Regions from separate parts of the Homo sapiens genome. Here regions 1, 2 and 3 are each linked to region 4. The links come from fine-mapping of genetic effects on gene expression. A gene starts in region 4. Each other region holds a variant in brackets. All regions are shown on one strand. Distances are between the middles of the regions.

Evidence for each region. PIP is the estimated chance that this variant, and not a neighbour inherited with it, causes the effect.
Region 1: its variant is fine-mapped to the expression of NIPAL1 in blood mononuclear cells (TOPMed, PIP 0.91).
Region 2: its variant is fine-mapped to the expression of NIPAL1 in whole blood (TOPMed, PIP above 0.99).
Region 3: its variant is fine-mapped to the expression of NIPAL1 in testis (GTEx, PIP above 0.99). The same link has a PIP of 0.9 or more in adrenal gland.

Annotation. Positions count from the first base shown.
Region 1 is chr4:47,818,020-47,826,151 of GRCh38, forward strand. All of the region lies in intron 1 of CORIN (corin, serine peptidase), which reads right to left. Among named protein-coding and RNA genes, the nearest start is that of CORIN, 16 kb to the right of the region's middle. RefSeq lists an enhancer at 6,430-8,016. The variant G/T (reference allele first, on the strand shown) is at 3,455.
Region 2 is chr4:47,910,469-47,918,600 of GRCh38, forward strand. It overlaps NFXL1 (nuclear transcription factor, X-box binding like 1), which reads right to left and starts at 4,115. Exons shown (of 23, transcript NM_001278624.2): 1 at 3,897-4,115; 2 at 3,501-3,737; 3 at 356-526. The coding sequence starts at 3,735. LOC101927157 (a long non-coding RNA gene) reads left to right here and starts at 3,759. Exons shown (of 3, transcript NR_125879.1): 1 at 3,759-4,236. RefSeq lists enhancers at 2,983-3,669, 3,670-4,355, 3,866-4,095. The variant A/G (reference allele first, on the strand shown) is at 4,989.
Region 3 is chr4:48,067,796-48,075,927 of GRCh38, forward strand. It overlaps TXK (TXK tyrosine kinase), which reads right to left. Exons shown (of 15, transcript NM_003328.3): 13 at 6,140-6,258; 14 at 3,722-3,879. Among named protein-coding and RNA genes, the nearest start is that of NIPAL1, 55 kb to the left of the region's middle. The variant G/C (reference allele first, on the strand shown) is at 3,488.
Region 4 is chr4:48,012,284-48,020,312 of GRCh38, forward strand. It overlaps NIPAL1 (NIPA like domain containing 1), which reads left to right and starts at 4,489. Exons shown (of 6, transcript NM_207330.3): 1 at 4,489-4,602. The coding sequence starts at 4,557. CNGA1 (cyclic nucleotide gated channel subunit alpha 1) reads right to left here and starts at 4,398. Exons shown (of 11, transcript NM_001379270.1): 1 at 4,200-4,398. RefSeq lists enhancers at 1-234, 4,079-4,580 and silencers at 4,345-4,674, 4,965-5,124.

The sequences.
Region 1 (8,132 bases), 190 kb before region 4:
TGAAGTAGGAACACAACTCAATAAAACTTTTGCAAATGCAAAGGCTAAAAAGGCAATTCAAAGGCCTGTGCATTAAACATCCTGTCTCTACAGAATGTTTATCTCAGGAGGTCAAAAAATATCTGGAATGGTTTGAAAAACATAGTTCAGTCTTACTTTCAGAAAAAGTGTTGACTAAACTACTAAATTAGAGGAAGACATAAGTTTCCTTAAGAGAAGGGTTGAGTTTTGAGCAGGTAGGCTGAGCAGATAAGAAGGAAAAAGTGAGACTCTGAAGGTCTGTGTGGATAGATATAGACGAGCAAGGAGTTGCACCCAGGTCTAATACGCTTAAAGAGTTTATTGGAAAGAGAGAGATGCTTCTGATAACTACTAGACAATAAAGTATGGCTGGAACCCAAAGAAATCAAACAGAGGAAGAAAGACAAGTTCTCAGAAAACAAATGAATTGTCTGTCCCCAAAAGGTCAAGGATGTGATAAATTACTAAAAGGCAGTTTTTTAAAAGCTGCAGATAGACATTTGATTGTAAAAACAACTGAGGAACCATGCCTAAAAGATTGGACAACTGGTCAGACAAGGTGGCTCACACCTGTAATCCCAGCACTTTGGGAGGCCAAGGAATGTGGATCACTTGAGCTCAGGAGTTTTCAAGACTACCCTGGGCAACATGGCAAAAACTCGTCTCTAACAAAAATGCAAAAATTAGCCAGACGTGGTGGTGCACTCCTGTGGTCCCAGCTACCTGGGAGGCTGAGGTGGGAGGATCACTGGAGCCCAGGAAGTCAAGGCTGCAGTGAAATGTAATCATACCACTGCACTCCAGCCTAAGTGACAGAGAAAGATTCTGTCAAAAACAGAAAAAAAAAAAAAAAAAAGATTGGACAACTATGCCAAGCAGCTTTTGAAAATCTGGATATATTGAACAGGGTAAGATCTGGAAAATCAACATAAAATTATCCAATAATTCTTACGTATCAAGTTTCAGCCTGACACAGTTATTATAGGTGAGTACATAAGTACTGTGTGTGTAATATAATAGAAAATTTATGGAATTAGGAAAAAGAGAAGACATAGCAAAAATGAAAAATATTTAAAAGGGAGCTGGGCAACCCATAATAGATTGAGTCCAAGCCTAGGTTAGATGCGGATTTGAGAGGAGAACACCTTCTGGGTAGGAATTAGCCAACTCAGGAGGATAATGGTAGACAAGATTTACTTGAACATGAAAGCATTCAGCAGACCCAAAATCTACTCATATTTCTCACTATGGGAGACTTCACAAAGGAAGTCTAGAAGAGCAAGTTGGCAAAGATCATGGCCAGAAGACAAAGAGAAACTAAAAGCAAACTGAGCAAAAATTACTGAACCTACAGAAAATATAGATAGGAAATGACTAAATTAAGAAGGAAGTTAAACTCTTGCAAACTCAACAGGGCCTTCCTAGAGGAAGAGGGGACAGAGACAAAAATAGCCAGGGAAAGACAATCTCTTTACGAGGAGTAATAAAGGCTAATATGAGGAACCAACCATTCCTATGCAAAAAAGCAGGAGACAGAAGCAGCGAGAGACATGAAGGGAATCAGAGTCTCCCAAAAATGGGAAGGATAACGGGAGAGGAGAAATGATCCCATTAGCCTTAACTGGATAAGGGTTTCACAAGATCCTGATTCAGAATCAGAGATCAGAGGCATCCTGCATCTCATCTGTGTACCTTGATGCCCATAATTCCATTAATTCCCACCAGCCTTCTACCTCCAAATTCTACCTCCAAATTCTAGTCCCTGCTTTCCTGCCCTTAGGATCTGTGAGACATCAAATAAGCCAAAGATAAAATCCCCTTCGTCAGTTTAGCCAGTTCTAAGAGGTTTTCATAACCTATAATCATCAGAATGCTACCAAATACAGAATGCTCCCAATAATTTTATAGACCATCCAGGGGGATCCTAATTGAAACTGCTATTACAATCCTGAAGCCAGACAAGCAGCCCCATCTCCCAGGGTTTGGGAAATGTCCGGAGTATAAAAGTGCCTGACTCCGGAAAGTGTCACTTTCCTCCCCTCCCGACACATTCTTCTTTCAAATGGAACCATCCATGGTTTCAACTATTGTTCATGCCAGTTTAAATACATAGTGGCAGTCAAAAGAAAGAGAGAGGAATTTCTAGGAGCAAGAAAAGAAAGGGAAACTGAAAGCCAGAACAGTAAAAGTTGAGGCTAAGACATCCTGGAAATTAGGGTTAGAGGGAAATAATGAGGGTGAGGGGAGAAATTTTCTTGGACGTCAGACTAGGAGCTTGGGTCTGGGGTTTGAATGCCAAGAAAGAGACCTGAGAAAAGGCCTAGGTTAGGAGCTGGAAATGAGAACCTCAAATAAATCCAGGACTTTCACAATGCTACACTGTCAGTGAAAAGGAAGTTAGAAAGCTCCACTTAGCCCAAGGAAAGGACTAAAAAAGAGCATCCCTGTAAAAGTGAAAACAATAAAAAGCTCTTATGAGAAATGAAAAATTTGCTGTACAAATTTACATTGTACAGCAAGTGTAGAATTCCCAAGCTGTGAAATTAATATAAAAGTAGATCTCAGACTGGTAATTCTACTAGGGTGCCTATCAGAAGCAAACCAAAACCACTCTGCACTTCCGAAACTGCCCCCTGCCCGAAAAATGAGCTCACAATAAAAAATGTAAAACACATGAGAAAGTGATCTGATAAACTGTGCTAAGAGGTAGAAATAGAATATAGACAAGTCAGTAGTCCCTGTCCTTATGGAATACACGAACTATCAAGGGAAAAATAGAGTCAATTGTTACACAAATATTCATTTAATTACTATTGTGATTAATGCTATAGATTGAGTCATACTTTTTATGATTAAAAAATGCTATAGAAAGTACAGCATAAATAATTTATGGCAATGTGAAAAATGAACTCATGGCTGGGTGTGGTGGCTCACGCCTGTCATCCCAGCTCTTTGGGAGGATGAGGCAGGCGGATCATGAGGTTAGGAGTTCAAGCCCAGCCTGGCCAATATGGTGAAATCCCGTCTCTGCTAAAAATACAAAAATTAGCCAGATGTGGTGACGTGTGCTTGTAGTACCAGCTGCTCGGGAGGCTGAGGCAGAAGAATCGCTTGAACCCGGGAGGCAGAGGTTTCAGTGAGCCAAGATCATGCCACTGCACTCCAGCCTAGACGACAGAGCGAGACCCCATCTCAAAAAAAAAACAAAATGAACTTACAAACTGACCTCAACCTTTTTATTAAAATATGTTCAATTTAACTACAACAGAGAGCAGTCTCATGTTGAAAATACTTCAATGATTAGGAATATTAATTAATATTTATTATAGGTACTTATATATATATAATATTAGAATTATTATTTCAGTCATAATCAAATAATTTACCTTCCCCGCTTCTTTCCACTGATGGTTTTAAATATTTTAAATAATAT[G/T]TTAATACATACTTATAAAAAAAACTGTCTGAATGTTTAATATTTATGATCGGAGTTCAAGGTATTAAGAATTATGTAACATTTTCTAAAATTATAAGAAGTTGATAAAAAGAAAAGAAGGCTTTTGAGAGTGTAGATCCCATTGTTCCATCCATCACATTTTTAAATTTTGTTTTGACGTCTTTCCACAGTTGGTATTCCCAAGCAAGAAAATATTTTTTAAATGATTGTCTCATTTCTTCCCAGCGCTAAAGTTATCTGTACTTTGAGACAAAACCAAACATAGAAATGATAAATGTTTTAAACTATGTATATTATAGATGCACCTAATTTGCTTATGAAAAGACAAACCTCCAGATCCAAATGAGAACAGACTAAACTAATTTAAAAGAGTTCTATAAATGTTTAATACTTGCCTAGCTTTCATGTATCAACTTTTATCCTTTTCAAAGGAAACACAATTAAGAATTGTGGATGTGAATTAAGGGATTATAAATAATCCTATTTTCAATTGAAGAAGTTAGGGGAAAGATATTTCATTTAAGATTAAGTTGTATATTAACAGTATACTAAATTGTTCACTACTTTCAAAAAGAAAAAATGTCCATGACTACAAATAAAGTTTGTCTTAGGGTAGATTTTTTAAAAATGCAAAAGTGAAATATCTCCTGAAATTATTAAACAAAATGTATTTACTTTTTTCCTTTTTAAAAAATTTAAAACACACATGTTTACAGAAGAGTTGAAGGTACAGTATAAGGAACTGACCCATTTTCTTCTGACTTTTCTTCTGACCCGTTTGATACTCAGTTGCTAACCAGATGCCTCACTGCTCCAGAATATATTAATGGATATTTCCTATAAACAAGGACATTCTCCTGCCTAAACACAACACAGCCATTAAAATGAGAAGATTACATTGATATATTGCAACCACCTAATTCTCAGACCCCACTGGTTTTTCCATTAGTCTCAATAATACCCCTTCTACCAAAAGGATCTAATTTAGAATCACAATTACATTTGGTTTTCACGTCTCTTTAGTCTTCTTCAGTCTTCTCTTATCTTTTATGACTTTCACAGTTTTGTAAATTACAGGCCAGTTGTTTTGTAGAATGTTCCTCAGTTGTGGTTTAGGATTAAATTCAGACATCTTTGGGAGAAATAACACAAAAGTGATGTTGCATTTTTCTCATTGAATCCTATCAATTTGTCCTTTTATTGATGACAGTCATATCCAACACATGATACTGTTGGGATGGGTCAAGCCTCCCCATTGTAACATTATTTTGTGGAGAGGTACTTTGAAACCATGTTAATATACCATCTCTTCAAACTTTCCATTTCTTTTTTTTTTTTTTGAGAGGGAGTCTCGCTCTGATGCCAGGCTGGAGTGCAGTGGTGCGATATCGGCTCACTGCAACCTCCACCTCCCGGGTTCAAGCGATTCTCCTGTCTCAGCCTCCCAAGTACCTGGGACTACAGGCGCGTGCCAACATGCCCGGCTAATTTCTGTATTTTTAGTAGAGACGGGCTTCACCATATTGGCCAGGATGGTCTCAATCTCTTGACCTCATGATCTGTCCGCCTCGGCCTCCCAAAGTGCTGGGATTACAGGCGTGAGCCACCGTACCCGGCCCCATTTCTTTTTTTATTCGCTTACATAAGCATGGACTACTGTTTTCCTATTTCATTCAATGGTTTATAATTTGTTACTATCATAATTTACTTAGATCCTCAATTTGCCCTCCATTTGGCCAATGGAAGTTCATTAAAGCTGGCTGCTGTGTCCTTGTGACATGCCCCATCATTCTTTGAGCACTTCCTTGCTTTTTGGAACAAGATGCTTTGAATTCATCTGCTACTAGCCTTGCATCACCCTTGGAATCAGCCATTTCTCCAAGGATCCTGGTTCCTTTTTGTAGAAAATGACATTTAAAAAACAAGATCTGAGGGCCCCTTGGTATGCATATGATGTGCTCATTGTTCCTGGGGTGGTGTTGTTCCCAGTTTCTCTCAGCAGAAAGAGCTATATGGAAAAATGTATTTATATTGTGTGTGCATTCACATATGTACACATACACATAGGCCTCTGTATTTATTTCTATATCTATCTTTACACATTGAAAACCAGATATTTATACACATATCTCCAGTTTCAATCCCATATCACAGAGGTCCAGATCTACTATACTTTCTATACTTTTAACCCCTTTTCCAACAGGGAGAAAGCTGGTTTATTGTTAATACATTTAATTGCTTGATCAATCCCCCAGTCTGTAACTAATTTCCCATGTCCCAGCCCCAGCTGCCATGTGGGCGCCATGCTCACCCTGTCCCAGACGCCGTGCTCATTCTGCCCTGGCTCTCCTATGCATGGACACCTTCCTCCTCCTACTCAGACCCTGAACCCCATCTTAGGTTGACCTCCACACACACCATCCTTACCCTGCTTAGGCACCAACATACTCTGCTGGCCACCTGTCCTTGTTGATGTGGCTGACGTGCTGCTGTCCCTCCCCACACTTTAGAACCCACCTTACTCTGTCCACTGAACCATTCAGGACTCAGTTGTTCACCAAGGAGCAAGGAATAGGAAAATCCAAAGTTTTGAAATCTATGGAAAGCAATCAATGCTATTCCTTTTTTTTTTTTTTTTACTCCTTTTTTCTCCTAAAGCATATATAAAGGAGAATAACAATACAAGAGCATTTTTAGGAGTGGCTGACATGAAATGATTTGAGAATATTGTTAGGAATATATGTTTCTTATTCAAAGAGCATTTTTGTTCCTCTTATTTGCATTCAGTTAATAGAGGTAGTGTTAAACAACAACAGAAAAAAAAAAAAAAAAATACACACACAGTGCTACCAGGAGGCCAAACAGGTAAGCTGAGCTTGTCATAAAACAACTCGGACCACTGACCAAGGCACACCCAGGTGAGATCTTGCAGGTCCTTTGTTGGGGCCACTTCACGTTCTCACCAGGATGCCTTAGGAAAAGCTTTTCTTTCTTTCTTTTTTTGCTTTGTAGAGACAGAGTCTCAGTATGTTGCCCAGGCTGGTCTTAAACTCCTGGCCTCAAGCAATCCTCTCCCTTCAGCCTCCCAAAGTGCTGGGATTACAGCCATGAGCCACCATGCCCCAGGTTCACCTTCTTTGTTTTAATTTCAAACAGGATGGAAACTCAATTCTATTGTTATGATTCTATTGTTCTGCAGAAGAGGGCAGAATAAAAAGCACCACAGGCCAGATTAGAGCTGTGTATCCAAGTCTAGATTTTGAATTCAAAAAACCACAAAGGCCAAGGGGAAAGAGAACGCTAAACTCTCAAGTTTGTCCTAACCTCTTTAGGGAATGAAACTGGACACAGCCAGACAGTCCTTCAGTCATTCCTAGCTTGAAAGATCCCTCCCCACTCTGCCTTGCTTACCCAACGTGGGCAGCTGAGTGTGACAGCTTTGAGGGGCCTCCCCAGGGCTATTTTTAACCTGGTGTTATCTGCTTACAGACTTTCCACCAGGGCAGCCGCAGGTCCAGGGAGTCACTCCACCTGGGAAATGTGAGCACACCGCTGGCCTGTGGCAAATGAGGTATTTTTAACTGAGACTTGAGAAGCTCAGAATTGTCATCTGCTTCAGGCCTCAGGGTGCGAGACACAAAACAGAGCCAAGCAAGAGAGGCTGTGTGCGGACTCTCCAGTTCCTTAGCAACCAATTGCTGGGCTTGTTGCTGGAGGAGGGCTCTGTAAGTGTCCGGATCAGCGATGGAAAGCCAGCCTCAGAGTCTTTCCTGGCAATTATGTGGCCCCCTCCCCATAGAAGTGAGGCCTGGGAGTCCCCCTTGCAGGCGAGGTATTCTGCCGGGCTTTCCCACACCACACCTATCTGCGGCTAATTAGCATCACCTGGGACTTGTTAGACACATGAATTCTTGGGTCTCAACCCAGACCTGTTAAATTAGAAACTGACAATGGGACCCAGCGATCCATGTTGGATCAGACCCTCCAGGTAATTCTCATGCACACTAAAGTTCTAGGATCACTGGCCTAATCACACATTCGCTAACATTCATAGATAAAGACGTAAGAGTAACACTTGAATCCCACCAAGCCCACATTGCAGTAATTCTTTTAAATGAATAACTTTTAGAACATTTTTACACTTACCAGAAAAAAAAAGTGAGCAGATAGTAAAAATCACCAGTAACTTTTTCAAACCACTGCTTTTTTTTTTTTTTTTTTTTTTAGATGGAGTCTCACTCTGTCACCCAGGCTGGAGTGCAGTGGCGTGATCTCGGCTCACTGCAACCTCTGCCTCCCAGGCTCAAATGATTCTGCTGCCTCAGCCTGCCAACTAGCTTACTAGATTACAGGTGCCCACCACCATGTCTGGTCAATTTTTGTATTTTTAGTAGAGACAGGGATTCACCGTGTTGTCCGGACTGGTCTCGAACTCCTGACCTCAGCAATCTGCCAGCCTCATCCTCCCAAAGTGCTAGGATTACAGGTGTGAGCCACTGAATCCAGCCAACCATTGCTTTTTTCTGCTGCTCACTGTACCCTAATAAGAAAACCTCCTTCCTCTGTTCGTCCTTAAAGGCAGTGATAAGACACCAACTGAGTTTTTGCCATCAAAGGCGGCAATTGGGTCAGAGAAAGAAATAGACCCCAGCGCTAA
Region 2 (8,132 bases), 100 kb before region 4:
TACACAAAGTACTCTAGTTCAATCAAATCATCACAACCAGAAAAAACTTGCCCCAGTCCACCGCTCAGGAGCTTTAGCAGCCCCATCCAAGCATTCTACTGAAATGCCAATTAAATACACACAAAGGCCTCCTAAGGCTATAAAAGAGCCACTGCCATTCTATTTGCTTTATAGAAAAATTAGTGTTACACAATATATAACTCAAATACCAAAGTGTACAAAAATTCAACTCTATAACATACAGTGCTCATCTTAAGATATAAAATCTATTCCATATAGAACAAAGGCATTACCAAAAAAATGTCAGGAATACAGTTTCATTGACGTCAAAAGTCAAAATTTAAAAGATCAGTACCTGTCTGAGTAGTGTATGTTATAAACGTATTTGCAAGTATTTTTCCCTGTTTTCCTTCAAAATCTTCATCTCCTTCTTCAGATGAAGAGCTAAACTGTTCTTCAACAAGTTTTCTGGCTGCAGCTTGGTTAGCTTTCTTGATTTCTTCAAATTTTTTCTGAGACATTAGCTCTGTTTAAAAGAAAAAAGTTTCATTTCTGCAAAACAATCTCTCAAAAAGAAAAGCATAATGTGCTAATATATCATTTTACAACACACATTTGAAAGTCACCTTTGGAGCATTCTACCTTCCTGTAATCCACGAGAAAAGTATTTTCAAATTCCTTGACACACAACTAAAGAGAATACCACAACAAAAACTTTCACTTTTCTAAGTATCCTGCTAAAATGCAGCAAATTTTTATGATAACGGTGATTAACAAATCAAGAAAAAAAATATGAAAATACAATAAAACTATCAAAATACTGGTGATCAACTTCAAAATAAGGACTAACAAAAATTAAGATGTTTTAAAGTACATTGTGCACAGTAATTTTTAAGAAGTGAGGGAACATGTCCACAGTGAGCACATAAAGAATCAGGGAAGGTAGGTATTTCAAACTACCGTCTTCTGAACAACAGGTAGGATAGGACACGACGGCCCAGCCCAGTCCAGTCCAGCCCTACCAAAGAGTTTGTACCAACAGTACTCACTATGCACCCACTATATTTACAATCGGCTTCTTAGGTCAAGAACTTTTTGCCTTTATTATGGACTTCTTGTGGTCACACAAAAAAACATATTTTACATTAATCCACACAAAGTATTAACATGGAAAACATGTTTCTTCCAACTTCATTCCAAAAAGAATGTTAATTTTGGATTCGTTCTTCCACTATTCAGCACTACCTGTACTTCTCATTTTGTTACTTGATTAATCATGCAAAACAAAACCAGATTACTTCACTGCACATACTCCCAAAGAAACTTCAAACTTCTTGAGAGCAAGGACCACAGGGATTTTCTTCAAGCACTAAGTGTTAATAAGCTCTTACGGACAGCAAACATAGTTTAAGAAAGGAGCCACAAACCTGCAGAACTGATCTGAGTTCATGAATTCCCATCTTGAGAGGATTTTAAATTTACTGATTGACTATTTTAAAATTAACATTATACTTAAAACTGATAAGCCACTACCAAGATAAGCTCTCTTATCTTGGGTGGTATATTCGTACTTGATTATGTTCCCTCATGAAACATTTTCCTTTTCTTATTGCAGCCAGTTTGGTTAGGGGTTATTAACAAAACAAATTGAGTATTTCAAGTAAACCTCGACGAAAATGTGTATCATGCTTACCTAGCAAGCTTTGAGTACTGGGAAAAAAGAACTGGCTATGAGATATATAACTCAAAACTTGTCACAAAAGAGATGATAAATGTCATTAATATACGGGAAATTAGCACTTAAAAGATACATAAGAAAACAGGCTGAACTGGACAGAGATAATGAGAACATTCATAACCTGATAAATGTATTCACCTAACATCATCTCAAAGTAAAGAGAAGCTGACAAGACAACCTTCTCACGTATTATTTCTTACAGCCAAATCTCAACTGTCCAGGTAGAGAATGCTTGTTTTCTTTTTCTTTTCTTTCTTTTTTTTTTTTTTTTGAGACGGAGTCTTGCTCTGTCGCCCAGGCTGGAGTGCAGTGGGGCAATCTCGGCTACTGCAAGCTCCGCCTCCCGGGCTCACGCCATTCTCCTTCCTCAGCCTCCCGAGTAGCTGGGACTACAGGCGCCTGCCACCCCGCCCGGCTAATTTTTTGTATTTTTAGTAGAGACGGGGTTTCACCCTGTTAGCCAGGATGGTCTCCATCTCCTGACCTCATGATCTGCCCGCCTCGGCCTCCCAAAGTGCTGGGATTACAGGCTTGAGCCACCGCGCCCGGACAGAATGCTTGTTTTCCTTCTACCCACGAGATGGAGACCATCCTGGCTAACACGGTGAAACCCCGTCTCTACTAAAAAAAAAAAACCAAAGAACAAAAAACAAAACATTAGCCAGGCGTGGTGGCAGGCGCCTGTAGTCCCAGCTACTCGGGAGGCTGAGGCCGGAGAACGGCCTGAACCCAGGAGGCAGAGCTTGCAGTGAGCCGAGATTGCGCCACTGCACTCCAGCCTGGGCGACCAGCGAGACTCTGTCTCAAAAAAAAAAAAAAAAAAAAAAAGTTTACCAAACCTGTTCACACGTCTCCATATTGTATACCTTATCATCACGGCCATTAACTGCATGCTAAGAGAATACCACCTACCTTTCAAATTAGCCTAGGAGAAAAATCATTCAAGATACTCAATTCTGCTCCACACCCCCCAAAAAAATGTATCCTGAAATGCATTCCAAACACAAAAATAAAATGATTTCAGGGATTATTCCCTCGGCCCCATGCACAATTGTGTGTAAGTCCTCCCTGGCTCCACGAAAACATGGTCTTGGATGAAAAGTATTGATATATCGGAGGCAACACCAGATATGTCCACAGAAGGACATGGAATTTGTAAATAGGAACTACAGTCAAGGAAGGTATCAAAAGCTCAAGTGCTTACAAGGAATAAGACAAGTCAAGAAACAAAGGCAAAGGTAAAGATGACAAATGACACCTGGCTCCAGAAATGAGAGAGAATGTGAGATGGAATGCCCAAGTCCAATCTAAATGGGATTTCTGTGACTCAGCCGAGCTGACTGTTGCCATGCACAAAGATAACTAAAGCCACAAGGTTGTTAACCAGATTTTTAAAAACGACAAACAACCGCTGACAATCAATCCACATTTAAAACTCTGTGTTAACCAAACAACATTATAGACCAAATCAGAACACCGGGCCACAATTTACAACTGATGGTCTGGAGATTCAAGTAGGCAAGAGTGGAGGGAAGTAACAAAGGTAATACCACCTAAAATTAAGATGAAAGAGGTGCGATGGAAATCTACCTAGAGTGCCGAAAAGAGCAGCCACCCGAAAGGCTGGAGAAGTGGGCCCGATAACAAACTCCCGAACGAGGGGAAAAGCAGTGAAAGAAAGAAGGCGAGGGCGGAGGCGGTCCTGACTAGTAACTGCCTTAGGAGGCATCCAGGTGAGCACGCGGGCGGGAGCCATTCTCACCGCTGGCTGCGGTAGTCTGCAGGGCTTGGGATCCTGCGGGGCTGTGCCTGCTCCCTGCAGCCGCCGTGGTCGCGACTCCTCCGGGACTGGTGCCAGAAGGAACTGCGCCCACCGACCCCTTCTCTCGCCCTCCTCCGGCGCCGCGGAGATGGACTCCATTTCCTGAGGGGGCGGCAGTGGCCCGTCCCCGGGATCGGCCTCGGCCACCGGCCACCTGGCGCCAGGAAGCTTCCATCCCTGCAAAGGAGAAAAAAAAAAAAAAGAGTGGAAGGAGGTGAGCGCAGCGAGGACCGAGGCGAAGGAGGGTCAGTGCGGAAACCCGGTGTGAGGGGCCGAGTGAGGAAGGTTCCTGCAGGGCGGCGACCGGGTTTTAGGAGGTCGCGGCCCTGCCTTTACCGGAGGGCGAGTCCCCGCCAAGCCCGGGCTTTGGAGATGGACCGAAGAGGGGAGGGAGGACTAGGTACAGAAATAAACCGCGGAGCAAGAAGCACACAGTGCCGAAGACAGAAAGCCGGAGGAGAAGTCGAAACCGCCTCCTCAGCCTCTGCGGGAGCGTGGTAGGGGAAGAGTCACAGACTGACCCTGCGTCTCCCGCCGGGAACCAACTGCAGTGGTACACCCCACGGAAAGCTACGTCTCCTTACCGACTGCGCACGCCCCCAACAGACTACAACTCCCAGAAGCCCCCGCCCGCGTTCCGGCGACTGCGTGGCAGCACGGGCCGCTTCCTTATCCGGTAAAGTGCGGGGGTTGGGTGGGAGGGAAACCCCAAGCGCCTGCGCTGGCCCGAACAGGCCTTTGGGAACTACAACTCCCGGCGTGCTCTGGGGCTAGGGAGGGGTCGAAGGTCATAGGGGCGCGTGGTGGTGGAGGCGGGCGGGTCCGGAGGGTTTCGTGACCCCACAATTTGCTTCTGCTTCTGCAAGACTGCCCTAAACTCACCTGGGTATGAGGATTACATGGCTCTGTCCCTAATTGGCTCTCTGCCATCTTTTATTAGCCTTGCCTTTGAGCTTGCGGATGACAGGAGGTGTCAATGTAAAATAATCAAAAGCGCGAAGTTTGAGGATAGCCTACCTAGAAACACCGACTCCAAGGAAGGAGTCAGCGTTCCGAAGTAGAGATTTAAGATTTCACTTATATAGGCAGAAACTGAGAGGTTTTTTAGCAGGATTACAGCATTTTCTCATACAAGGTTAGAGAATAGTTACAACAATTTGATTATAGACAGTGTTTCTTTTTGGGAAGTGTACATTTAACATTTTTCATAAAGGATTTTCTGTCATCTGGTCTAAGCAAACCGGGGCAACAAAGCAGAAGTTAATCTATAAGGATCATTAAGAAGGCAGGAAGTTTTTGTCCTTAACTTCGTTTAATTCTCTCTAGCCATTGTATAGAACAAGAAAAATAAGAAAGCAAGTTAATCTATAATCTGAGAAACAGAAGTTGTAACCACGTGTAACTCAGATGACAGTCACATCTCTCTCC[A/G]GGCTTAGTGAGTTTTAGGCTCCAACAACCTTTAAACTATTTATTTTCATAGGGAAGTCTCACTAACAGGAAAGGCACTTACATTGAAAACGCTTTGAGGTTGGCCACTGTGAAGGAGGGAAATTCGGGGGAGAGTTGCAGGAAAGTGGCTTGAGTAGTAAAAGTACCCTTCTAAAATGCTAGAGCCAATGTAGAAAATAAATCTAAAGCCTGTTATTGTCATAGTCCTTTGTAGTGTGCAATGAGCTTTCCCTGGGACATGCTAATTTTTACCTTCACAGCATCTCCCTAAAGTAGATTTTGTTAAGGAAAATAGTTGAGGGCCAGGACCTAAATCTTATGATTTTGCTGAGTTTTCCAATAAGATACATGTGCATATATACTGACAGGTAGATTGCAAAAATTCATTCTGGGGTCTGTCTGGGATTGAGAAACATATTGATGGCTTATTGTACAGTCCTTCAACTTAGTTAATTCTTCTATTTTAACCATAAATTTCTATTATAATATTTAGATAGCATTTATTAGATGTCAGGCACTGTTTAAAGTGTTTTACGTTATGTATTAACTAATTTGGTACTCACAGTAACCGTGTTTATTATCCCCGTTTTACAACTGAGAACACTGAGGCACAGAGAGATTAAGCAATTTGCCCTTGATCATACAGCTAGGAAGTAGTGAAGCCAAGATTCAATCCTAAGTAGTCTAGTATTAGAAACCATGCTTTTAATGTCTTAAACATAGATATTGCAGAATTGCCTGTACATTAACCAAACTCAAAAATGACATCCCATGGCCAGGCATGGTGGCTCACGCCTGTAATCCTAGTACTTTGGGATGCCAAGGCGGGTGGATCACCTTAGGTCAGGAGTTTGAGGCAAGCCTGGCCAACATGGCGAAACCCTGTCTCTATTAAACATACAAAAATTAGCTGGGCATGGTGGTGGGTGCCTATAATCACAGCTACTAGGGAGGCTGAGGCAGGAGAATTGTTTGAACCCAGGGGGCGGAGGTTGTAATGAGCCAAGATCGCGCCACTTCACTCCAGCCTGGGCAAAAGAGCAAAACTCCGTCTCAGAAAAATGAAAAGAAGAAAAGAAATAACATCTCTGAGAATGATATAACTTCATTGGCTAGAAACTAACAGGTGCACAGCAACTCTCTTAATGCTGCACTTGTATAAGAACTGTAAGTTTAAAGCTGCAACCAGCTTTCAAAGTTTGAAAACCCTAAAGTGAGACTTTTCTTCAGTGGGGTTTTCACATACAGGAAAGGAGCTGTTATACTCTGAGAGAGAATATAGTAATTATCACTGAGTAATGTCCAAGAAGTATTGAGTGGCTACTAAAAAGAGAGATCCTTCTTAGAATTATGTTATATGCCAGAGAGCTGGACTAGCATATTATCTAAATTTCCATGTCAAACTTTATTGAGAAATTTTTTCTGTTCCCTCAAATATTCAATAGCTAATAACAGTGACCAGCAATCCTTGAGTGCTTTCTATGTGCCAGCATTCTTCTAGGTCCTTTTTTCTTTTACTCATCTAATCTTCACAATAACCATGAAGTAGGTATTGTTATCGTCAAAACAATTTTTTTTTATTATACTTTAAGTTCTAGGGTACGTGTGCACAATGTGCAAGTTTCTTACATAGGTATACATGTGCAATGTTGGTTGGCTGCACACATCAACTTGTCATTTACATTAGGTATTTCTCCTAAAGCTATCCCTCCACCAGCCCCCCACCCTGCAACAGGCCCTTGTGTGCGATGTTCCCCTCCATGTGTCCATGTGTTCTCAGTGTTCAACTCCCACTTATGAGTGAGAACATGTGGTGTTTGGTCTTCTGTCCTTGTGATATTTTGCTGAGAATGATGGTTTCCAGCTTCATCCATGTCCCTGCAAAGGACATGAACTCATCCTTTTTTATGGCTGCATAGTATTCCATGGTGTATATATGGCACATTTTCTTTATCCAGTCTATTATTGATGGACATTTGGGTTGGTTCTAAGTCTTTGCTATTGTGAATAGTGCCTCAGTAAACATGCCTGTGCATGTATCTTTATAGTAGCATGATTTATAATCCTTTGGGTATATACCCAGTAATGGGATTGCTGGGTCAAATGGTATTTCTAGTTCTAGATCCTTGAGGAATCGCCACACTGTCTTCCACAATGGTTGAAATCATTTACACTCCCAAGAACAGTGTGAAAGCATTCCTATTTCTCCACATCTTCTCCAGCATCTGTTGTTTCCTGACTTTTTAATGATTGCCATTCTAACTGGCGTGAGATGGTATCTCATTGTGGTTTTGATTTGCATTTCTCTGATAACCAGTGATGATGAGCATTTTTTCATATGTCTGCTGGCTGCATAAATGTCTTCTTTTGAGAAGCGTCTATCCATATATTTTGCCCACTTTTTGATGGGGTTGTTTTTTCTTGTACTTTTGTTTAAGTTCTTTGTAGATTCTGGATATTAGCCCTTTGTCAGATGGATAGATTGCAAAAATTTTCACCCATTCTGTAGGTTGCCTGTTCACTCTGATGATAGTTTATTTTGCTGTGCAGAAGCTCTTTAGTTTAATTAGATCCCATGTGTCTATTTTGGCCTTTGTTGCCATTGCTTTTGGTGTTTTAGTTATGAAGTCTTTGCCCGTGCCTGTGTCCTGAATTGCATTGTCTAGGTATTCTTTTAGGGTTTTTATGGTTTTAGGTCTTACATTTAAGTCTTTAATCCATCTTGAGTTAATCTTTGTGTAAGGTGTAAGGAAGGAATCCAGTTTCAATTTTCTATATATGGCTAGCCAGTTTTCCCAGCACCATTTATTAAATAGGGAATCCTTTCCCCATTTCTTGTTTTTGTCAGGTTTGTCAAAGATCAGATGGTTGTAGATGTGTGGTGTTGTTTCTGAGGCCTCTGTTCTGTTCTATTGGTCTATCTCTCTGTTTTGGTACCAATGCCATGCTGTTTTGATTACTGTAGCCTTGTAGTATAGTTTGAAGTCTGGTAGCCTGATGCCTCCAGCTTTGTTCTTTTTGCTTAGGATTGTCTTGGCTATGTGGGCTCTTTTTTGGTTCCATATGAACTTTAAAGTAGTTTTTTCCAATTCTGTGAGGAAAGTCAGTGGTAGCTTGATGGGG
Region 3 (8,132 bases), 56 kb after region 4:
TATATCCCACTGCTCGAGGTCATCGCCAAGGTCTGATTTTTCACTCATGCAAAAATTCAAAAAATTGCCACCTGCGGCATAAATAGGCTAAGGATCACTCAGAGACCAGCTCTGGAACTTGCTGGCAGAGACCTGAATCCAGGCTGGCTCTTCACAAAAAGGAAGAGAAAGATATCTTGACTGACTGACATAGCACAGCATGATTGGCAGTTGAGTGAGGCGTGAATATGAAAATGTTAGAGAATGTTGCAAAAATAAAACGGCTAGACCTGCAAACACTAGCCACATGTGGCTATTTAAATTTAAATTCCTTAAGATTATATAAATGTTTAAATTCAGTTACTCAGTCGTGCTAGCCACTTTTCAAGAACCCAATAGCCAGAAGTGGCTGCCATATTGGGCAGCACAGATATAGAACGTTTCAGCATCTCAGAAAGTACTCTAGGACACCACGACCCTAGAGATATATTTGAATGACTTGACATGTGTGAGGTAAAGAAAGGGCTGGGAGAAGGGGCATCTAGCATACCAGGCTCCCAAGCTCAGTTCAGGGTATCTATGACACCTGAGCCATTATAGAAAGGAGGATTTCAGTCAGAAAGCAAAAGGCATGTTTTCATGAGGGACTTTGAAGGTCTTGGGGCACAGGTTGTGCTTTCAGTCTCAGTCAACAGAAAAATAAGAGTGTGGAAGTCCCTCTCACACATAGAAAAATGATTGCTGAATATTCTTACATTTTAAAAAGTTTTAAAAGCCTGTGATCTTTGCACAGTTTTTGAGTCAGCAACTCTAAAGGAAGATATTCACCATAAGTGACCCCATATCCCTGGTCATGGAGCCAAGGATTGGAGCATTTTTTCCTACTTCACTTAGGGGTGTGGTTTAGCTCTGATTCCAAGAGGAAGAAGAGATGGCACTGTCAGCATCTTTTAAAACCATGGGAAACAGAGCTACTCATAGTAGCCACATTCTCACAGGGGTCATTGACAGTAGGGTCAGCGGAAAGACACCCCTCTTCATGGCTTATAAACAGAGAGCATCAGTAAAATAAACAGAGCAGAAGACAGCACAAGTGCAAGTGAGGGTCCTTATTGAGACTCTGGGCATAAATTGTGGAGCTCTGTGAGGAGCCTGTTTCTGCGCATGAATCCTGAAATTTGTCTCTCAAAGATAGCATAATCACGTTTGACTCTAATGCCCTAAGCACATGGGGTAAAGCTGTAGGCAATATCAACTTTTGCACCTGACATAATGACTCACATCTGTAATCCCAGCACTTTGGGAGGCCAAGGTAGGAGGACTGCTTGAGGCCTGGGCAACAAAGTGAGACCCCATCTCTAGAAAAAATTTTAAAAAATTAGCTGGTCATGGTGGCACATCACTGTAGTCCCAGCTATTCAGGAGGCTGAGCTGGGCGGATTGCGTAAGCCCAGGAGGTCAAGGCTGCAGTGAGATGTGATTGTGCCACTGCACTGTAGTCTGGGAAACAGAGCAAGACTCTGTCTCAAAAATAAATCAATCTTTTCTTTTCTTTTTTTTTTTTTTTTTTTGAGACAGTCTGGCCCAGTCACCCAGGCTGGAGTGCAATGGTGGGATCTTGGCTCACTGCAACCTCTGCCTCCCAGGTTCAAACAATTCTCCTGCCTCAGCCTCCTGAGTAGCTGGGATTACAGGTGCCCGCCACCATGCCCAGCTAATTTTTTTGTATTTTTAGTAGAGACGGGGTTTCACCATGTTAGCCAGGCTGGTCTCGAACTCCCAGCCTCGTGATTCGCCCACCTCAGCCTCCCAAAGTGCTGGGATTACAAGCATGAGCCACCACACCCGGCCAAATCAACTTTTTCAAACAAATAAATCGACATAACCACACCATTGTATTAATCAATGTTCTGATTGCAATTTGAGACAAATGTTGTTTACATGGTCCTTCTGACAGCATCCTACTTATCACTTCCCTTCCTCCTTCTATGTCTCAGTTCCACTTACATATAACATCTCAATAAGCATTATATTACACACACACGTGTGTATTATTTCATACACAACATATACTTCTGAGCTACTTACATTGTTATTGCAAAGATGCTCCTAAAACGGCTGCTTATTACTACTCACTGAACATTTTTCTGAACATTTTTTTCTTACAGCTTGCTGAGCATTTTTCTATGTCTTTCAAGATTCCTTGTAAAGTAGTTAATATATGTAAAATATTTTCATACATTGGGGCTCTCTATAAATGTAATGCTTTTGGAATATGAATAACCACATCACTCTTAAAATATTCAATATTCTAGTGTTTGTGGATTGATAATCAAGTGCTTTATTTTTTCAGCCAGGAGGAAACTTCTCATCAAGCTGCAATTTCCAGCTGAAACTGTCAGCTGGAAAGAGACCAAAGCTCTCAAAATCAAAGGGAATTTCACTGAGAAGGGCAGGGGTGTGTTGAGTCAGTGCCCAGAGGTGGAAAAGAAGCCCCTCTGGCTTTATTTCTAAGCTTGGCATTTCAACAAATAGAAAAACTAAGTTCTGGAGAGATTTCTTCCTGAGTGGAAGTTCCTGACACACTTTCTGCCTCCATTCCTATTCTAGTTTAATCTGTAGCAGGAGTCCTGACTGCCAGAAGACAGATGAAACCCATTACTATTAGCGTTGGAAAAGCAAGACAAAGCAAAGTTGAGTGAAGTAAATGGAAACACCATCTTTCTTTTTCAACCTGGAAATTTAACAAGCCTGGTTCTACCCTTAGTTTCCACCATTAATTCTTTTATTTATTTGCTTATTTATTTATTTATTTATTTTTTGAGACAGAGTCTTGTTCTGTTGTCCAGGCTGGAGTGTAGTGGCGCAATCTCAGCTCACTGTAGCCTTTGCCTCCTGGGTTCGAGCAATTCTCCTATCTCCGCCTCCCAAGTAGCTGGAATTACAGGCATGCACCACCAGGCCTGGCTAATTTTTGTATTTTTAGTAGAGACAGGGTTTCACCATGTTGGCCAGGCTGGTCTCAAACTCCTGACCTCAAGTGATCTGGCCACCTCGGCCTCCCAAAGTGCTGGGGTTACAGGCGTGAGCCACCACACACAGCCTCCATCATTTAATTCTTTTTTTTTTTTTTTTTTTTTTTGAGATGGAGTCTCACTCTGTCGCCCAGGCTGGAGTGCAGTGGCGCCATCTCGGCTCACTGCAAGCTCCGCCTCCCAGGTTCAAGATTCTTCTCCTGCTTCAGCATCCCCAGTAGCTGGGATTACAGGCATGCACCACCACGCCCGGCTAATTTTTGTATTTTTAGTAGAGATGGGGTTTTACCACGTTGGCTGGGCTGGTCTCAAACTCCTGACCTCAGGTGATCCACCCGCCTCGGCCTCCCAAAGTGCTGAGATTACAGGCATGAGTCACTGCGCCCGGCCCATTAATTCTTAAAGCTAATAAAACATCTAATCACTGAGGCTTGAGTAACACCAAGAGTTTCTGCAAGAACCAATCTCAAACA[G/C]ATAAGACTCAGAAAATGCACTGAATTCCTCAGATAAAAGGCCATTGTTCAAAACAAAATGGATTCATGACTTTGTAGTGAGTTTGAGATAGTACTTCAGACTCTCAGGATCATGACCAAGACACAGATGCCTTTTCCTGCCATGACAGAGTTCTGAAGTAATGTTTGTGATAATCAGGTCTGCTCTCAGATGCTGGGACTGCCAACCTTCATAGGAAAGTAACATATGCTTACCTCATGCCAGCAGCTGTACATGACTTCATATATGGACATTGGTGCCAGGTGAGGGCGATATAGCCTGAAGCCTTCAGAAATAGCTTCCACGACTTGCAAATTTGACTTATTTTCAAAAGGCATTTTTCCTTCTGTAAAAACTTCCCACATTAAAACTCCTGCAAACAAAAATGCAGGAAAACAAGGGGTTAGAGAGAAATGATTGCTTGGGAACTGAAAGAACAATTTCAAACTACAAGGCATTATTTTTGTGCTCCAGGCTTTGGGCTATAACCATCCTGAATAACAGCGGTTCTGTCAAGGAAGCAAATCATGTTCACTTTAGTTTTCAAAGAGGCCTGTAACCTGAAAATAATCTAAGTGAAAACAATGCCTTTCCTTGTCCATGGGTCTTGATTGCCTCTCCTATCAGGAGAAAATGCCAGTAGCATTTTCTTTTCTTTTTTTTTTTTTTTGAGACAGGGTCTCGCTCTGTCGCCCGGGCTGGAGTGCAGTGGCATGATCTCAGCTCACTGCAACCTCTGTCTACCGGGCTGGAGTGCAGTGGCATGATCTCAGCTCACTGCAACCTCTGTCTCCCGGGTTCAAGCAATTCTTCTGCTTCAGCCTCCTGAGTTGCTGGGATTATAGGTGCCCACCACCACGCCCAACTAATTTTTCTATTTTTAGTAGAGGCGGGGTTTCACCATGTTGGCCAGGCTGGTCTCGAGCTCTGACCTCAGGTGATTCGACCACCTCAGCCTCCCAAAGTGCTGGAATTACAAACGTAAGCCATCACGCCCGGCCTAGCATTTTCATTTCTAAGCAGCAGTCACGTTCCTGCATCCTGAAATCAATGAACCTTTCTGCCATTCCATAGAAACTGACAGGATTATGTGAGCCTCTGCTGCCTACTTAGCCAAGAGTTTCAGCCAGTAAATGGCATGTGTCCCCTTCTTTCTGCTAAAAGATTAGACTGATGGGCAGAGCCCCAGAATATCTAGCAGGGGCTCTGTACATAAGTAGATGTCCAATAATCATTGATTGATTGATTAGTGAAACTCCTGCAAGAACTCCTAATTTGAGTTCATTTAATTATTCACTTATTCTACAAATATTTACTAGACATTGATGAGAGGCGAGGCCTCTGCTGGGGCCTGGAGATTTTATAAGTGTGAGATCAATCCATGTGCCTAAGGAGCTCACTGTTCAGTGAGGGAGACAAGTAGGTAAAATTCAGGGAGTTCTAATTGTTTGGCAACCTTCGATGAGGTCGTTATATTGCTCTTCATTGGTCTCTAAGATGTGGTCTCACAACCTAATTGCTCTTCAGTAGAGCTTCAAGTGTCACCTGCTGAGACTATCATATGTCCATGGAGAGCTAATGAGATTAATGACACAAGCTTAACTTTATTGTATGTTTTTAAATTTATGTTTTAATTTTTTTGAGGCAGGGTCTTGCTCTGTCATCCAGGCTGGAGTACAGTGGCACGATCCTAGCTTACTATAACCTCAAACTCCTGGGCTCAAGCAATCCTCCTGCCTCAGCCTCCCGAGGAACTGGGACTACAGGTATATGCCACCACACCTGGCTAATTTTTTTTTTTTTTTTGTAAAGACAGAGTCTTGCTAGGTTGCCCAGGCTAGTCTTGAACTCCTGGTCTCAAACAATCCTCCCACTTCAGCCTCCCAAAGTGCTGGAATTGTAGGCCTGAGCCACTGTGCCCAGTTTTAACCTTATTGTAGACAATAAAACTGACACCCTTCTGAGGACCCAGAACCCACAAGCCTCCAGGAAGTTTGGGGTGAAAGAGGATAGATAGATTTTTGCATATTTATTACCATTTTTTGAAAATCAACCCCGAAACTTCATTGGACGTGGGTCTATGGTGTCTCTTTCTCAATGAAGAACATTATCCAATATGAATATCAATTTATAGATCCCAAGGAAGCCTATGTCTAAATTCCACAAACTTTAAAGTTAAGGAAGTAAATGAGATGCCACCATTTTTTAAACTCAGGTTTTAAGTTCAGGTTAACAACTGAACAACTGGAAAATAGTCAACCTGCTTCACAGTTTAGACAATTAAGTTTATTAATTACACTCTAAACAATGTCATAAGATCATTTTTCCTTCAAGCCTCTGCGGAGTGGAAAACTTATCTGAGTTTGTTTTCTAGATCAGTAGACTCTTTGTTATGGTTTTATAGTGAGTGCCCATGGAGGAAGGAAAAGATCCAAAAGGCAGACTTATGTAAGAAGGTATGTGACACCAGTTGCCAAAGACAGTCGGGATGTGGTTAGAACACACAGAAGGAAGCACAATTACAAGAAGACTTTTTAAAAAATGCTATATCAATTAGGAAATCAAAGTTAAAAATAACACATTGCCCATTTTATTAAATCAAGCTCCAGCAAGTGAACATCAGATGCACTCACCAAATGACCAGACATCAGATTTACTGCTGTACTTATTGAAAAGAAAAACTTCAGGAGGGGACCACTTGATTGGGAACTTGGCTCCAAAAGAACTGACATACTCATCATCCAAAACGTACCTAAGTTTATCAGATTCAAAGCATATTGTGTTAATTACCTCCAAGCTCTATTTACTTCAAATCCCTTTAGTTAACTCTAAGTTGCTAAAAGACAAAGTATTTTACCCCAGAAAGGTTGTGGATGCCTTCTTGTTAGTAGAGTGTGAAAGTGTCCCTGATAATGTTTCCTCCCCAAACAAAGTCTCAATTGTATTTGTTTTACGTGGACCTCTGAAAATCATAATGCTGCTTCAGTTCAAAACATGGCTCACTGTTTATGTTAATTATGGTAAATTCTTAACTCTACAAAGAAGCCTGCTAAAGGCTCTAACAACCAAGATTATAAAAAGGAAATAAAAGACCACTCTTCCCAGGGGTGGGGAAAACAAAGACCACTCTTCTTAAAATGGAAATGAATGATTCAAAGTTGGATGTCGAATTTTCTTCCATGTGCATGTTTTTTTGTGGGGCATACAGAAGGGGGGAAAGTAAAAGTATATGAACATAATGCTTCTGATATGACAAATCTCTAATGCACTAGAATGGCCCTATATGGAAAGAAACCAAGAATAACTACCGTCTCCTTAAAAAAATAACAAGTTGAACCCTCTCTCTTTTTTGAGAATTGTACACCGGGATGTCCAAATGTCAGACACTGAGGAGAAGAGACAAAAATAAACTTGTGCTTGTTGCCCCTTAAATATACAATATAGTGTTTTCACAGCATTTATTAATGCTGCCCCTATACTCTCACTTTTTTTTTAAATACACTACCTCCCTCCACCTGTCAGCACTTTATTGAGTCAGAGGTCATTCTACTTAGGTAAAGAATGACTAACAGAAAACAAAGAGAGAAAAGCCACTGTTTATAGATTTTGAATTTTTCAAGTCTAGGCTCTTCAGAGAAGAAAGATTGAGTTATTAACAAAATATCTTGGAAAATGGGCCATGAACAGGAGTGAGATCTCACTACCACCACCCCTATTACCACCACTATCTAGAAAAAGATCCCCTGAGCTTTGGGGGGATCTTTTTCCCCCAAAAAGAGGAATGGGGGAAATAGAAGGGAAAGAAAAGGGGGGTACTAGACATTAGTAGATCAGTGGGTTAGGGTCCTGTATCTTGTACCCTAAAGGGCTGCCCAAGTACTTTAGGAAAGAAGCTCCTACTCCCACATTAGGTTGGTGGGATTTAAAAGTGACACAGAACCAGTGCTCTTTTCCCCAGGTGGAGCCCTTGGAAAGGCAGAAAGATGCCAGTGAACAAATGGCTGTGGATGTGCCTAGGTAAATGAGATCTGAGATCACACCATGGAGTTTTGTAATCATAAAGAACGCCGGCCAGGTGAGACTGCTCACACCTGTAATCACAGCACTTTTGGAGGTGAGGTGGGTGGATATTTGATGTCAGGAGTTCAAGACCAGCCTGGCCAACATGGTGAAACCCCGCCTCTACCAAAAATAAAAAATTAGCTGGGCGTGGTGGCATGTGCCTGTAGTTCCAGCTACTCGGGGGGCTGAGGCAGGAGGATAGCTTGAGCCTGGGAGGTCGAGGCTGCAGTGAGCCGAGAGAGCACCACTGCACTCCAGCCTGGGTGACAGAGTAAGACTCTGTCGAAAAAAAAAATTGCCAGTTCTGAATGAATCTTGCAGAAAAAATTCAGTACGTGTTAGCAGCTACCTGTTTGAATGGCCAGCCAAAGACAAGACCGGAGGATGGTGGCTGCAATGATGCCATGCACACAGATAACAAAAGGACCAGTAAGCCACCTCACTACCAGTACTATAGCCCCACGAGACACAAGAACTTGGACTTTGAAGCTTAGGGAAGCTAGAGAGAAACCCCAAATTCCCTGTGATTATATTTCTAGCACCACCCCAAAAAAGGATGCTCAA
Region 4 (8,029 bases):
TAGGACAAATTGCTGCTATTTCAGAAGTACCAAGTATCAAACCAGAAAGGGCTTGATTTAGGAACCAAACCCAGGGCTGTTTTGGTAGGAAAAAAAACAAAGGCACAACCTTAGCTATCGGGTGGGACCTTAGCAGTGTGGGAGGACAGCCATTGCTTTCAGTTTGGCCTAACAAAAAGGGTGGTGTTATGTAAACAAAGCCCCTTTAGTAGTCAAAATCAAAAATCCTTCCTCTTTTTCCTTTTGCTGGCCATTTTCCTCCCCACCACACCATCTTTTTTTTTTTTTTTTTTTTTTTTTTTTTTTTTAGAATTTAGCCACTTCTCAGGCCTTCTTCCCCATAATTTGGAACTTTCCTTTGGATTTGATCAAGTTGGATAGAGTTGATCAAACCCTGATCAAGTTGGATAGAGTTGATCAAACCCAATGGGAAAAAGACCAAAACAACAATAAAAAACAGACAACAACAACAAAAAACAGTTAGGCAAAACAAACAATGGCACAATTTATATGATAACTGAGTGCTCTAATGGTAAGGAGAAATTAAGACCAGTTGGTCGTTAATCTTAACTTTAACCAAGACAAACCCCAATTCAGTTACTTACCTAGGGACGAGTCTCTGGCTATAGACTGCTCTCTACCATTCAAGAAGCAGGAAAAACAAAACAAAACAAAAAAAAAAACACTCCTTTTCCCTGTTGGAAGTGAGCCAAACTCCAACGTCATGGAAACAGAAAATTTGTCTTTCTTGATAGAAGCAAGTAAAACTCCAAAAAAGAGAAGTTGTACAGCAAAATAAACTTTAGATCTTGACCAAATTTGGGGAAATCAGGGATTCTCTGGAGGGGGTGCTCTCAGACCTCAGCAAATTGTCCTATTGGTTTGAGCTGTAAAATTAGCTCATGCTGGTACCAAGCACTGATAAGAGGTTTGCCAAAGGTCAGGGGCATCTCCACTCAGAATCCCTCTGTGGTTACCAAAATGTGAACCCCAAAAATTTGAGACAGGTCTCAGTGAATTTACAGTTTATTTTGCCAAGGTTGATAACACAACCCCATGACACAGCCTCAGGAGGTCCTGATGACATGTGCCCAAGGTGGTCAGAGCACAGTTGGGTTTTATACATTCTAGGGACACATGAGACATCAATCAACATATGCAAGATGAACATTGGTTCTGTCTGGAAAGACGGGACAACTCAAAGCAAAGGCAGGAATACTGGAACCAGGGACGGGGCTTTCCAGGTCATAGGTAGATAAGAGACAAATGGTTGCATTATTTTGAGTTTCTGACTAGCCTCTCCAAAGGAGGCGATCAGATATGTCAGTGAGCAGAGGTGTGAGTTTGAATAGAATGGGAGGCAGGTTGGCCCTAAGCAGTTCCAAGCTTCACTTTTCCCTTTAGCTTAGTGATTTGGGGGCTCCACTATTGATTTTCTTTCACAACTCAATAACCCAGGAATAATTAAGGGAAAGGCAAGATGGAGGATGAATTACTCAGCTTACTGTTAAAATTTTCTCAGTGATATAATTTTTGCAAAGGTGGTTTCTACTCCCCAGCTACCACCCCTCTTGTCTAGTCATCTTATTCCTTGCCCCAGAAACCACAGACCTCCCTACAATGTAGCAACTCAGGGGTTAACCTTGACACACCAGGAACCCTCCCAGACCTCCCCAAGCTCGAAAGACCTGTGGCCTTGTCCCTTGAGGCCCTAAGGCTCTACTAATCATTATTTATTTTGACCATCACCCCTGGGTCTAAGTGTCCTAGCACAAAGACCAATAAAACAGAAGTTGGCATTTTAGAGGGTCTCAGTTATTATCGCATTCTAATTTTTGAGTCAGAAGAGTAATTTTCCTAGAATCAAAGAATGGGCTAGTTGGAGATTTTTTTAATGCTCTTCTTTTAGTTAAACAAACAACATGATTTTGCGGGGGAATAAATATCCCCCAACTTTATGTCATTAAAGACAGTGTGTGGTACTATAACGGTATTCCCCAAAGTCATCTAGAAATTATCAATGAAGGAAAATACATATTATAAATTTCTGCTAGGCAACATTTAAACTGGAAAAGCAGTGGTCTTAAATGAGTTTAAATATTTTTTTTCTGAATTTTTTCTCTTTATTTTCAGAATTGAAAAGCAAGAACTACAACAAAATGCCTCTTACCTAAAGTAGACCTTAATATGCAACTGAAATTCAATAAAGATACATTTTTTAAAGTCTGTTTTGTTTTTTAATGTCCAATTACCAAATGGGTTAAGAGCACATACTTGAAGCCCAGCTTTCTTGGTTAGCATCTTGGTTCCACACTTACTGGTTATGTGTGCATAGGCCAGTTACTCAATCTTTGTGTGCCTCCATTTCCTCAGCTGTAAAGTGGGGGTAGTAGTATCTACCTTACAGGATTTTCATGAAGATTTATAAAGCAAATATTTACAAAGAGATTAGAATAGTGCTTGCCACATAGTAAATGCTATCCAAGTGTTTGTTAAATAAAAAATAAGCACCATAGATCACGTTTACCATCATTACTAATTTTTGATAAAGACAAAATTTTAAGTTGGAAATCCAAAGAAAACGTTTAAATAGAAGTCTAAGTTTTGGGCCGGGCTAGGTGGCTCACGCCTGTAATCCCAGCCCTTTGGGAGGCCGAGGTAGGCGGATCACGAGGTCAGGAGATTGAGAGCATGCTGGTTAACACGGTGAAACCCCATCTCTACTAAAAAAAAAAATACAAAAAATTAGCCGGGCGTGGTGGGGGGCGCCTGTAGTCCCAGCTACTCGGGAGGCTGAGGCAGGAGAATGGCGTGAACCCAGGAGGCGGAGCTTGCAGTGAGCCGAGATCGCGCCACTGCACTCCAGCCTGGGCGACAGAGCGAGACTCCGTCTCAAAAAAAACCAAACCAAGCCAAACAAACAAACAAGCAAACAAAAAGAAGTCTAAGTTTTAAGGCTTGTTATGGAAAATTGGCATAAATCTCCCTCGCTTTCAACTTTCACCTATTCCACTCTCCGTGGTGTTCCTTCTCTGCAAAGTCATCCATATGTATTATAAAAGTGGGTGCCTTGGACTGGTATGTTGACTAATTTGTTCTTAGCTCTTCTCTCATCCGCCTAAGAACAAGAAAAACAAGATTGAGGCCTCTGCTATGAAACTCTTAGGTAATAAAATTAATAGCACTGTTCATGCCTACTTAGAACAAAGGCTACCTGAGTACATGAGAATATTTTCCTCAGTGTTAAAATGCCAGAGCACAAAGGCACCCCAGTTCTCCCTGGTGAGGGTTTGAGCCCGAATTGTTCACTACCCCACCCCTCACCTTTTTTTTTCTTGAGACAGGGTCTCACTCTGTTGCCTGGACTAGAGTGCAGTGGTTCGATCATGTCTCACTGTAGCCTCCACCTCCTGGGCTCAAGTCATCCGTCCTCCCACCTCAGCCTCCTGAGTAGCTGAGACTACAGGAGTACACCACCACATCTGGCTAATTTTTGTAGAGACAGGGTTTCACCATGATGCCCAGGCTAGTCTCGAACTTGTGGACTCAAGAGAGCCACTCGCCTCAACCTCCCAAAGTGCTGTGATTACAGGGGTGAGCCACCCGCCAGCCCTGCCCACTCCTTGTTTTGTAAATACCTGCTATCAGGTCTTCCAACCTTGGTTTGGTTACTTAACCTCACTCTTTGCCTCTAATCCCTCATCTGTAAACTGAGCGTTAATAGACTGCTGTGAGATTTAATTAATACATAATGTGCCTGCATATGTATGGTATAACAAGGATATCATAAACATTAGTTATTAATAATTCGTGGAAATAAGTCTTTCCAGTTTTGGCATTGCTTTTCCCTTAAAGGTTTATTTCAAATACCCCTATGACCCAGAAAATGGGGCAGGGTAGGGGGAGTTGCCTGCTGGAGACAGAACGGAGAGTGGATGGATATAGCGGGCGTGGACGGACAGCGACAGAAGCTGATAACAGCACAGAAGGGCAAAGTCTGCTCAGCAGCCCCCAAAATAAACTTGAGCCTGGCAATCGGCGCAGAACCCCAGCAGTCAGCAGCTTCGGTGCAAAGCAACTAACACCTGAAGGCTTCCAAAAGCAGCAGGGCTCTCTCTAGCGGGGGAGCCTTTTCGACCAGAGAGGAGCCAGAAGGGGGCCTCAGTGCAGCCTCCACTCCACTCAATTCCCGGAGTTACCTTGGCGGGCTCCACGCTCCGAGAGACGCTGTTGCTCTATGAGGCGTGTCTGTGTTTCTCTAGTTCGCGGCTCCAGCAGTCGCGCCAAGGGGCAGCTGCTACTCCTGCCAGATACACCAGTTATCACAGGCCGCTCCCAGGCCTGCGGGGGCCCTGAGAATTCGCAACAAGCCCCGGGCAGCAGGGCTCGGCTGGCGCTGAGGCCCCGCCTGGCCATGCCCATTGGCGGAGGCTGCCCCGGGGGCGGGGTCAGGGCGCCCCATTCCCAGACCCCGCAGCCCCGCCCGCCGCGGGTGCGTGTGGAGAGGCCCAGGTGAGGAGCAAGCGCCCGCGTTCCGGAAGCCCGCTCCCGGGGCCATGGGGGCACAGGTGAGGCTGCCGCCCGGAGAGCCCTGCCGAGAAGGTTTGTGTCTGCCCTGAGCCGAGGGACCTGGCAGCTGGGTGGCGAAGAGACCGGGTGGGCGGTCCCCGGACACTTGCGGAGACTGGAAAGGGGGGCTGTACCGACTCTAAACGTAGTCGTTCACTCATTCATTCATTCAGTCAGTCGGCCGTCCAGCCAGGCGTTCAACACTTATTTATGGGTGCCTAGGCGATTCGGGCTGTGCTGGAAAACCTGAGTGGAATAAGGCAGGTGGGACTCCCACTCGATTCGCGAGGCCGACCAGTGTAAATTACCGCGTGCTGCGTGTGGGACGGGGAAACTCAGGATGCTATGGGAAGAATCCCGAGTCCCTCTGAGAAGGACGTTTCCTCTGACTCAGGCTCCCTTCCAGAGTCTGCGGCCGACGTCACCCGGTGGGCAGAGGGCGTGTCTGCCTGGGGGGCCCGTGGGAGTTCTGCGCTGCGCCCTGCGCTGGCTCCCGGGGATCGAGCACCGCGAGAGGTTGGGCGCCCGGGGCCGCGGGGGTGGGCGTTGGGCAAGTCTGGGCCGCCCACGTCTCTCCTCTTCCTTGGAAATGAAAAGGTCTCCAAACCCATGAGCCTGTCTGACTCGCTGTGCAGTCACTCTGGCTGCTTAAGGCGAGAGCCGTACTGGAGAGGAAACCTGGAACCGGGAGCACTCGTTTGCAGGCTCTTCTTACTGCTTCTCACCTGAGCCCCGTGAAATCTCTGGGCGAGGCTCCTTGCCCTTCGCCAAGTGTTCGCAACACTGGCGGGTTTTCTGCAGTCTCCATACAGAAGGCCCCGATAAAAGTAGGGAAGGGGGTAGGGGGAGCGACTGGAAGGATGTAGATACATTGAAATGATGGTTTTCGCCGTACCAAGGGGAAAGCAGCTTTTTAATTTACCTGATAATGCAGTAAAGGGGAAGGGAGGCAGTGAAAGGCATGGTAAGAACTACTATATATATACACATATATATATAGTTCCCTTACACATATATATATATATATATGTATATACATATACACCTTTGCAAAGGTGCTCGCAACTTCCCTAGTTTCCTCTCCTCTTGACTCTTCCAGCTTATTCCTTTTTAACAAGTGAGCTCGTCCAAACCATGCTAGCAAGGAAGAGAAGGGACACCAAAAAAAGGAGAAAAATGCCTGAACAATTCACAAGCTATTAAAAAAAATTTTTTAAGGCCGCTGGATCTAGAATTATTTTCTAGTCTTTTTTTCTGAAAAAGAGCAATAACGCCTGAACAACTCACAAACTATTAAAAAACAAAAATTTTAAGGCAGCTGAATCTAGAATTATTTCCTAGAGAGTCAGGTTGTGTGCCCTTTTTCTAAATAATTTCTAACCCAGCAAATCTGACAGTTACTAACACACCCACACTTGTTTACCCAAGGATCTGTAAGTAAGGAAGGTATATGAATTACACCCACTTGTTTGAGCTTCTGGATGTTTTTCCTGCTTTGCTTATGCATTGAGTTCCAACAAGAAACATTTAAGCTCCAGGCTTAATACCTGTGATTAACCATGGTAATTAATTGTGTGAAAAGCTGGTGAGAAAGACTTAGAAATCTGAATGCACGTTATTAGTAGTGGGAAGAGATTAGGCTTTGGCATCAGACAGTCTGAGCTGTAACTTAGCTTCCTTGAGCATTTTCCTGTCTATAAATTGGGGGTCATCCCTCCAGTTTACAGTTCTGAAGAGTAGGTGCAGGTGGGATTACATATGAACTACACCACTCAGAGCTTGACATGGAGTAAACAAAGACTCAATTTTTCACTTGTTCATTCAAATAACAAGAGTCCCATGTGCCAAGCACTGGCATAGGTGCTGGGATAGAGGGATCTGCAAGACAGTCTGGTCCCAGACTCTAGGACTAGGTTCCTGCTCTCAGGCACCTTACTGTTCAGATGGCAGCTACTATGCAAGAAACAAAGTAATTTAAAAGATCATTATAATAGCAGTAATGTATCAAGAGTGTTGGGATGTTTAGATTGGGTATTCAATGAAAGCCCCTTACGAAAGTGATATTCAAGCTGAGACCCAAATGACAAGGGGTCAGTCATGAGATCTGAAGATAGAACATTCCAGTTGAACTTCCATGAAGAAAAAGTTAATTTCATACTTTGGTTTTGACTTTTTTTTGTTTTTTTGAGGCGGAGTGCCACTCCGTCACCCAGGATGGCATGCAGTGGTGCAATTTCAGCTCACTGCAACTTCCACCTGGGTTCAAGCAATTCTCCTGCCTCAGCCTCTCAAGTAGCTGGGAATACAGGCACATGCCACCATGCCCAGCTAATTTTTGTATTTTTAATACGGGTTTCACTGTGTTGACCAGGCTGGTCTTGAACTCCTGACTTCAAGTGATACTCCTACCTTGGCATCCCAAAGTGCTGGGTTTACAGGCATGAGCCATCCCCCACCCCACATTGGTTTTGACTTTTAAAGCTATAGATGCTTCAAAAGAGTCTCTAATCCAAAATTATCTTTAAAAGAAACAAATGCAAATATGTATGAAGGTTGTTATAAAGCTGTAATTAAGCCATATGAGGAAGTCTATTTGATTGGGAACATATGATGGAAAGTGACTGAGAGGTTCCTTTAGATTGGGAAGGCAGGAAAGGCCTCTCTGAGTTGCTTAGTCCTCTCACTCAGAAGAAGCTAGCTATGCCAGCCAGCACTCTGTAACAGGCTCAGGAACAGCTGCTTTTTAAAAAGCTTAAGGTGAGAAGGAACTTATTCTATGAAAGGAACAGAAGAAAAGGCAATAGTAGGGAATGAGGTTAGGCAGCTGGAGACAGGATTCCACAGGGCCTTATAGGCTATAGTGGGAATTTTGGATTTTTTTCGGAATGAGAAGGGAAGCCCTTGTGGAGTTTTGGAAGGAGGAATGACAAGATCAGACCTACTTGTCTAAAGGTTCATTTCACCTGATCCTTCTCCCACCTACTCTTTAGCCACATCTCATACCATCTCCCTTTCTGTCACCCCAGGCAACCTGGCTGACTGCAGTTTCTTCAACCCCTCAGGGTTTCTGCTTTTAGACTTAGCAGAGAGGCTCTTTTGTTTAATCCTGTTTTAAAAAATATATTCCTTGATGCTGCTTTTACTACTTGCTATGGCACTCTTAACATACGTATAGTTATTTGTTTGTTAATCCTATCTGCCCCCACTGGAATATAAGAGAGCGGGACCATTGTTGTATTCATTTTTCTATCTCCAGATTCTAGAAAATGCCCAACAGGTAGTACACCATACATATTTGTTGAATGAAGGAAAAGAAGATTAGTGTTTCAGAGAGGGGTGAGAGGGAGAGTAATGCAATATGATGTCAGAGACGAGCCAGTTTCAGAGCATGAGAAGCTTTAAAGTTCAAAGTTAGTGAGGAGTTGAGATTTTGTTGTAAGTTGAGATGAAAAACCATGAC